2 separate regions of the Homo sapiens genome follow, and region 2 is linked to region 1. Evidence: fine-mapped QTL for protein levels in blood plasma. Region 1 holds a variant in brackets. A gene starts in the other region. All regions are shown on their forward strands. Region 1 overlaps LOC124902229 (a long non-coding RNA gene). Region 2 holds the start of ADGRG2 (adhesion G protein-coupled receptor G2).

The links. PIP is the posterior inclusion probability: the model's chance that the variant is causal. Protein levels are from antibody-based Olink assays in UK Biobank. Linkage for the fine-mapping came from a reference panel and not from the study's own genotypes, which makes the PIPs less certain.
Region 2: it holds the start of ADGRG2, and the variant in region 1 is fine-mapped to the plasma level of the ADGRG2 protein (UK Biobank, PIP 0.98).

The regions. Positions count from the first base shown.
Region 1 is chr9:98,798,595-98,802,981 of GRCh38, forward strand. It overlaps LOC124902229 (a long non-coding RNA gene), which reads right to left. Exons shown (of 2, transcript XR_007061689.1): 2 at 1-1,015. Among named protein-coding and RNA genes, the nearest start is that of ANKS6, 4.2 kb to the left of the region's middle. The variant CT/C (reference allele first, on the strand shown) is at 1,950.
Region 2 is chrX:19,120,600-19,124,986 of GRCh38, forward strand. ADGRG2 (adhesion G protein-coupled receptor G2) reads right to left here and starts at 1,869. Exons shown (of 29, transcript NM_001079858.3): 1 at 1,843-1,869.

The sequences.
Region 1 (4,387 bases):
AAAATCCAACATCCCTTTATAATAAAAATCTTCAAAACAGATTAGGCATTGAAGGAACATACCTCAAAATAATAACAGCCATCTATGACAAACCCATAGCCAACATCATATTAAACAGGCAAAAGCTGGAAGAAGACTCTCACCACTCCTATTCAACATAGTACTGGAAGTCCTAGCCAGACAACCAGGTAAGAGAAAGAAATAAAAGGCATTCAAATAGGAAAAGAAAAAGTCGAACACTCTGTCTTTGCGGAGAGTATGAATCTATACATAGAAAACCCTACAGAGTTTGCCAAAAGGCTCCTGGAAATGATAAACAAATTCAGTAAAGTTTCAGGACAGAAAATCAATGTATAAAAAGCAATAGCAGTTTGATATGCCAATAACATTCTAGCTGAGAACAAAATTAAGAACACAACCTCATTTACAATGGTCACAAAGAAAATGAAATACCTTCTCTCTCTTTATCAGCGGTCCTTGAAGTGTGTCCCACACAGCAGTAGCACCATCACCAGCTGCAACACTGTTACAAACGCAGATTTTTCTGGCCCTACCCAAGATCTACTGAATCAGAAATTCTGGGTGTGGGTTCAGCAACCTATATTTTAACAAGCCCTCTGGGTGATTCTGATGCATGCTAAAGTTGGAGACCCACGTTTGATCTTCATTGCACGCCTGCCATCCACCGGGGAGGGCCCAGATGATCATCCCTAGGTTGCAGAGGAGGCAACCGAGGCACAAAGAGGTTGTGTCTTGCCAAAGACTCCACAACTATTCTGCAGGAGAGCTGTGAGTAGGACTCAGGTCTTCTGACATCGAGTCCAACTCTCTTTCCATTTTCAACAAATATGTATTGAGTGCCTGCCATTTCCAGACACTGTTTTAGGTGCTGGAAAAGCTGCAGGATTTAGTACAAGGTTCTTCTGTAGCTCACAGATCCATGAGAGCCTGAGAACCAGTTCTGGAGGCCCCAAAGCCAGGAACAATGACCCAAATCTCATGCCGCAGCTGCACCCTGTAGGAAGATGGGGTTGGTTCAGGCCCTTTTTGGTGTTCCTGGCTTCAGATTCAGAGGCTGAGGTGACAGTGCCTGACTGGCCCAACTTGGGTCATGTGCTCATATAATAGCGGGAGGTAGTTTCTGCTTCAGAAGGTAGGGCACTCCCAAATGTAGGAAGGGGGTTCAGATGCTGGGCAGTCAAAAACGATAACAAGTGTTTGCTATGAAATATTCCCTCTGGACACCCTTTTTCTTTTGGGAAGCCTTTCTTCCCTACTCACAGTCTGTGTGCTTCAGTGGTTAGCACATATCCTGATTGGCTTCAGCCCAGGACTTTTTTTTTTTTGAGACGGAGTCCCACTCTCTCTCCCAGGCTGAGGTTCAGCGGCACAATTGCACCCCACAAACTGCAACCTCTGTCTCCTGGGTTCAAGTGATTCTCTGCGTTAGCCTCCCGAGTAGCTGGGATTACAGGCACCCACCACCATGCCCGGCTAATTTTTGTATTTTTAGTAGGTACGGGGTTTCACCACGTTGTCCAGGCTGGCCTCAAACTCCTGACCTCAAGTGATCTTCCTCCCTCAGCCTCCCAAAGTGCTGGGATTACAGGCATGAGCCACTGTGCCCAGCCCAGCCCAGGATTTTTGCTAAAGCAATTGAGAATGAGGCCCTCTCTGCTGAGGTTGCCAGCTATCAGGATGTCAGCCAAACTGGTGCTCACTTTGCCACCACTTGAAGACAGCCTGCCTAAGAGTGAAGTCACCACAAAAGAAAGCAAAACCAAGTGATAGAAAGAGACTAAGTTAGAAAATCCCTCCCCACATTCTTTTTGGTGAGGTTTATTTTGAGCAGCATTGTTGTCACTTGCATTCCAAGCCTTAACAAATGGATAATTTACTTTTTTTGTAAATGAATGGGTTCATACTACGCATGCTATTCTTGAATCTTG[CT/C]TTTTTTTTTCTTTTTCCATTAACAAATGTCTTGGGCACCTTTCCATGTAGGTAAATACAGACTGCTGCATTTTAAAAAAATGATTGCGGCCCGGCGATGTGGCTCATACCTGTAATCAATCCTAGCACTTTGGGAGGCTGAGGCAGTCGGATTGCCTGAGCTCAGGAGTTTGAAACCAGCCTGGGCAACACGGTGAAACCCTGTCTCTACTAAAAATACAAAAAAATTAGCCAGGCATGGTGGCATGTGCCTGTAGTCCCAGCTACTTGGGAGGCTGAGGCAGAAGAATTGCTTGAACCTGGGAGGTGGAGGTTGCAGTGAGCCGAGATCACACCACTGCACTCCAGCCTGAGCGACAGAGCGAGACTCCATCTCCAAAAAAATTTTAATAAATAAATAAATGATAGCATGAAACACCATTCAGCAGACGTACCATAATTTATTTAATCATTTAATTTTTATTTCTATTTTATATTTTTTGAAATGGAGTCTCACTCTGTCATCCAGGCTAGAGTGCAGTGGTGCAATCTTGGCTCACTGAAACCTCTGCCTCCTGAGTTCAAGCGATTCTCCTGCCTTAGTCTATGGAGTAGCTGGGATCACAGATGCCCGCCACCACACCAAGCTAATTTTTGTATTTTTAGTAGAGACGGGGTTTTGCCATGTTGGCCAGGCTGGTCTTGAACTCCTGACCTCAAGTGATCCACCCGCCTCGGCCTCCCAAAGTGCTGGGATTACAGGCATGAACCACTGTTCCCAGCCCATTTAATCATTTTAGAATAAGGCACAGTTGAGGCCGAGTATGGCGGTTCATGCCTGTAATCCCAGCACTTTGGGAGGTTAAGGGGGGTGGATTGCTTGAGACCAGGAGTTCAAGACCAGCCTGGCCAACATGGTGAAATCCCATCTCTAATACAAAAAAAAATAGCCAGGTGTGGTGGCACATGCCTGTAATCCCAGCTACCTAGGTGGCCGAGGCACGAGAATCGCTTGAACCTGAGAGGCAGAGGTTACAGTGAGCTGAGACTGCACCACTGTACTCCAGCCTGGGTGACAGAGCAAGACTCTCAAACAAACAAACAAACAAACAAACAGAAACAAGCACAGTTAGCTTGTTTCCAGTTTTCTGCTCTTATAAAAAATACTGCATTGGACAGCGCTTGTAGCAGCCAGGGTCCCACCAGGAAACAGATGGCACACTTGGCTGAGGAGCTGGGGAATGCTTACTAAAGGACCATTTACAGAAGTATAGGCAGGATTTACTAAGAGCCACAAGGGATGGTGCAGTACTCCAGGGCTGGTAATAGTACAGAGCTGTTACCATCCCAGGCCTGAAGGGGAAAAGGGGAGAGCAGGTACTGGAATTCTGCAAGAGAGAAAAATTGCAGAGACCTACCTGATAGGAGCTACAGCCTTTGGTAGAGGGACAGAGCCAACCCACAGCAACTCAGTAGGGAGCTATCCTCAGAGGAATAAAAACCTCTGACCTCACTCTCCTCCTGCCCTCTGATCTCCTGCCAGTGCTCCTCATTAGTAAACCCTACTGGAAGCTAGAGTCTTGGAGCCTGCTGATATAGTTCATGCAGTCAGCCTTCCAGGGCACAGAACAGGGTGAAGAGAAACAGCAGGGACAAATGGACGATGTCTAGCACCTTGCTGCTCAATCTGGGGTTCTTGGACCAGCAGCACTGGTATCACCAGGGAGCTTGTTAGAAATGTGGCATCTTGGGCCCACACCAGACCTGCTTAACCAGATCTAGCATTTCAACAGGATCCCCAGGTGACTCACCATACCATACATTAAAGTTTGTGAAGCACAGATCCAGCACATCTTTCTATGCAAGTATAGCTATAGCCTTATTGTTTATGAATTCTCTTCCAGCCTTTTTTTTTTTCCATTGGTCCCTGTGTTGGTTTGGATCCTCTAAGAATCAGATGCCTAGATGTTTGTTTGTTTGTTTGTTTTCTGGGAAAAATACCTACAAAGGACAAAGAGGGAAAGTGTGTAATCCCAGCATTTTGGGAGGCCGAGATGGGTGGACCACTTGAGGTCAGGAGTTTGAGACCAGCCTGGCCAACATGGTGAAACCCCATCTATACTACAATACCAAAAAAATTAGCCAGGTGTGGTGGTGCGTGCCTTTAATCCCAGCTACTTGGTAGGCTGAGGCATGAGAATCGCTGGAACCTGGGAGGCGGAGGTTGCAGTGAGCAGAGATCACACCTCTGCACTCCAGCCTGGGCGACAGAGTGAGACTCCGTCTCAAAAAAAAAAAAAAAAAAAAGAGGGAAAGGGGAAAGTCGGGGAAAAGGGATGGGGAGCCCTCAGACCATGATGCAGGTCTGATACTTGAGAAAGGAGAATGGGAAGTGACGAGGGAAAGTCTCAGCCAGGCAGATGGGGGATTCCCAAGCACGGGTTGTGTCCTATATCAT
Region 2 (4,387 bases), not on the chromosome of region 1:
TCTCAAACCCTGATCAAAAAATGGGTTCTCTTTCCACGTATGGTGACTATTAGGATCAGCTACATAATTTGTGGGACCCAGTGCAAAATGAAAAGGAGAGGCCCCTTGTTCAAAAATTAAGAATTTCAGCATTAAACCAAGTGCAGGATGCATGTCCATGAAGCCAGCCCTGCTATCAGATCATGTATTTGGCTAGAAAGTTGGTAAGAAAAGTAAAATATTTCGCTATTAAATGAGTAGTGAAGGAAATCAAATCATTTTACCCCAAAATATATTTCTTTGACATATTTTGAAATAGTTGACATATTTCTAAATATTGACGTATTTAGAAAGCCAGCCAGTAGAGCTAATGCAAAGCTGTCCTTGGTGCGGAAGATTTGCATTTGTAGAGAATCTGCACGGATGTAGCCAGGCTTTATCGAGGTCCTCCCTTGTCCAGATCTAAGAGAAATTAACTGAGGATCTGACCCCTTTAAAGGTCTGAAAGAAACATTTACTGTTTATTCTCTCTGAGGGCTGCCACCTGTGAGGTTTCATTGACATCTCCAGACCATTTTTGCTGGCCAAGCCTCCTCTTCTCCCCCTCTCACAACCTCTTTTACCACCATAACCTGTTTGGGGCCATGCGTTGAGACCCCTTTCTTTCTGTAACCTCAAGATAATCTACATGCTTCTGTACCCCATTGGGGGGCTGGGGGTAATCACTCTATTGTTCTCTCCCCGTGGACACATTAATACATTTGCATGCCTTTTCTCCAATCAATCTGTCTTTGTCAGTTAATTTTTCAAGCGAACCTTCAGGGGGCGAAGGGAAAGTTTCCCTTGGCCTTTATAGTAGCAAGTGTTTTTGCGTGCGTTTGGGGGTAGAGGTGGCAAAGAGGTATTAAAGCTATACATACTGTAAAGTCTTAGGACCTCGTCTCCCAATCTCCCACTTTTCCTAAGGTTTTCAGCCTGCTGGACAAAAAGTACTTCCGTAGGGCCTGCCGGATAAAGTGTGGTCCATGGAACAGCATCAGCAGCCACTGGGAGCTTCTTAGAAATGCAGACGCTCGGCCCCCACCCCAGACCTGCGGGATCAGAATCTCATTTTAACGGGATCCCTGGGGGATTATCGTGCACAGTACAGACTGTCACTGTCGAAGCAGCCACGGAAAACCTGTCCCCTGCTTCGTCTGGCTCTCGGGAGGTCAGCTCTCTTCTTCCCCCTCACTTTTTATCGGGTTTCGGAGCCTCGAAACTCGAGTCCCTGCCGAAATGCGCTCACTCCGAGACCACGAGCCCCCTCCTTCCCCGGCGTGCTCACCCCCTGGCTCCGGGCCGCCGCTCCGTCCCTCGGTGCCCGGGGCCACCTGTTCGGGGCCGCGCCGAGTGGTGCCGCCCCAAGCCGTCCGGGGCCCGGGCGCGTTCGCGCTCCGCCAGCACCGCCGCAGCCCGACCAGGCGCGCGGAGCCGGGCTCCCGGGAGTTGGCGTCTAGCACACCACCCGCGCGAGTCAGGCTCGTGGCTCAGTTTCCCGCGGGTTGGGGAAAGTACGGCTCCGTCCGAAGGTTTTGGAGACGCGCGTCTCCCCTTGGAGCCTCCTTTCCCACGGCGCGCGGGCTCCCCCAGTCGGGGAACTAGCCCCGGGGCTGGGAGCTACGCCTCCGCCTTTCAGGATGTTCCCGGGCCCCGGCTAGGAACAGCAGCCGGGCGGAAGGCGCGTTCGTCCCGCCGGCCCGCTGGCCCGCCGCCCTCCGGGGCTAGACGCTGCGCCCGAGCCTCCAGCGCCCGTGGCCGGCTGTGCGAGTCTGGGTCTCAGGACCCCAAGGGGCCAGACCCGTCCTGGCGCCGAGCGCTTACCTGCCGCTCGCGTCCTCGGGGCTGGCTGCTGGCGCCGTCCGGCCCGCCTTTTCCCCTCTCCGGGGCTGCGGCCCTCCTCCCCCCGCCCGCGGCCTCGGCGCCGCCCCCGCCGCTCCCGGCCCGCTCCGCCGCCAGCTCTCCAGCTGCCCAGCGCGGCGTGGCGCGTCGGGCGCTCGGCGGCGGCGAGGCTGGGCGCGGAGGTGGGGAGCGGGCGGGGCGCGGAGGGAGGAGGGGGAGCGGGCAGCGCGGCCGGCCGAAGCCGGGCTGGGAGCTCGGGGCAGGGGCAGGGGCCGGGGAGAAGCGGGGGCGGCGAGCTCGGCCGCCCACCCCACCGCAGCCGGGGGCCCCGCAGCGCTCCTGGGCTCCAGGCACTGCGGGACCCTCAGATGCCCGGCGTCCAGCCCAGCGAGCTCCTCCTTGGGGACCCCAACGGACCCCAACCTCCAGACTCAGCGGCTCACCTTTAGGGCTCGCCCCGGTACCCATATGCCCGTTTCAGTGTCGCACGCTGTAATGGGTGGGAGCCCCGAGGGCGCACTTCTACCAAGATATTCCTGAATCCGGAGATCAGATGTCAGACCACTTGAGAGGGGAATTTGGAGAGAGCAGTAAACGAGAAATGTCCCAGTAAAGGATTCAGTTCGATGGTTTTCCTGGTGAAGGACTGGAAATACACCGGGTTCCCAGAAACCGGGATCTCGGGCGCTCTGCCTGCTGGGGGTCGAGGTGGAGGGGGTATATAAAGTGAGTTGTCCCTGGTCCCCTCTACCTTTCTGTCTCAGCATCTCTCCTCCTGCATGGTCATAGAATAAAAACTAGATCTGGATAGGACTTACAGATCCCCTAAGCAATTTGTCAAAGTACCCTATTTTACAGATGGGAAAATGGAGGCTCAGTTCTACAATACGAATTAGTTGTAGAGACCAGGGAAAAAATAAGCGCTCTGAATTCCCTTTCCGGCTCATTTTACTGCCCCCCTCCCCCGCCGCCTTTATAGTCGAATAACACCTGTGTTTGCAAAATGCTTTGTCGTTTTAAAGGCATCGTTCTCTTTCGTTAAACCTGCGGGAGAATATACCATTTTTCCTTTACAACTAGAACAAAATTCTGGATTCTGAATTGCATTCACAGCCCTGGAGACGCGATGGTTATCAAGTGCAGATCTTTAAGGCATATCCTGGCTGACTCTGCCATTTTAGACACATGATGGGCGAGATGTATATTCTGCTTTGCAGGAGGGGTTGAATTTGTTTTGCAAACACCAGTTTATTAACACTCACAACATTCTAACTGAATAAATGAATGGACAGTCTTTTCAGAGAGACTTTTAACTGATTGGATTAAGGGAGAGTAGAGTCAGGAAGCTCATCCAGGTTACATAAATTAAAAGTTTTGATGAAGGGGAAAATGGTGTATTAAATAAACACACCCGGTATTACTCCAACGGGTTAAATTGGTTCCGTTTGAATGAACTTAACACGTATTTTTAACTTACATATAACTTTTGCATATTAACTTCTTTATTTTTGCTTTACATAGACCTCATACCTAAAGAATTTTCATACACCGCTAGTGGGAGTGTAAATTTTTACAAGCATTTTGGAAAACTCTTTGGCAGAATCTATTAAAGCTGAGAGTACAACTACCCTCTGACCAGCAATTCCCCTTCTGGATGTACACACAACCTCAATCAGTGTGTATGTTTACCAAAGGATATGAACTAGAATATCATACCAGTATATTTGCAATAGCCCAGATTGGAAATGACCCAGATGCCCACCAACAGAATGGATCGCAGACATTGTGATGGTATAGTCACAAAGCGGAATCCCAGACAGCAATGAGACTGCATGAACCACTGCTATGCTTAATATAGATGAACCTCTGAAACAATGTTGAGTGAAGAAGTCAGGCCCAAAAACACAGACACTATATGATTTTGTTTCTGTAAAGGATAAAACAGGCAAAACTAACCTATGCTGTTAGGATAGCGGTCACTGGAGAATAAGAAGGGCTTACAGGTAATGTCTGGCTTCTTGATCTGGGTACAGTTTAAACGGATCTATGAGCACTTTTCTGTATGTATGTCTCACGTCAATAACAAGTTAATATATGTCTATCTCATATTAACAGTTGCTTGAATTTCTAAAGTTAAGCGTGATACCAGAGTAAGTATGCTTTTCCTTTAAACAAACTTGCTGTTTAAAAAAGGACTTTAAGGCTCTTTGGGAGGCTGGGGTGAGGGGATTGCTTGAGCCCAGGAGTTCAAGACCAGCCTGAGCAACATAGTGAGACTCCATTTCTGTAAAAATAAAAAATAAAAAAAAATCAGCCAGGCATGGCGGTGCATGCCTGTAGCCCCAGCTATTGATTATTGTGAATAAAGGCAATATAAATATTCACATACAGCTTTTTGTGTGAATATAAACCTCTATTTCACTTAGGTAAATACCTAGAAGTAAGAGTGCTATGTCATATGGTAAGTTTAGCTTTATCAAAAACTGGTAGCCAGACACAGTGGCTTGCCCCTGTAATCCCAGCTACT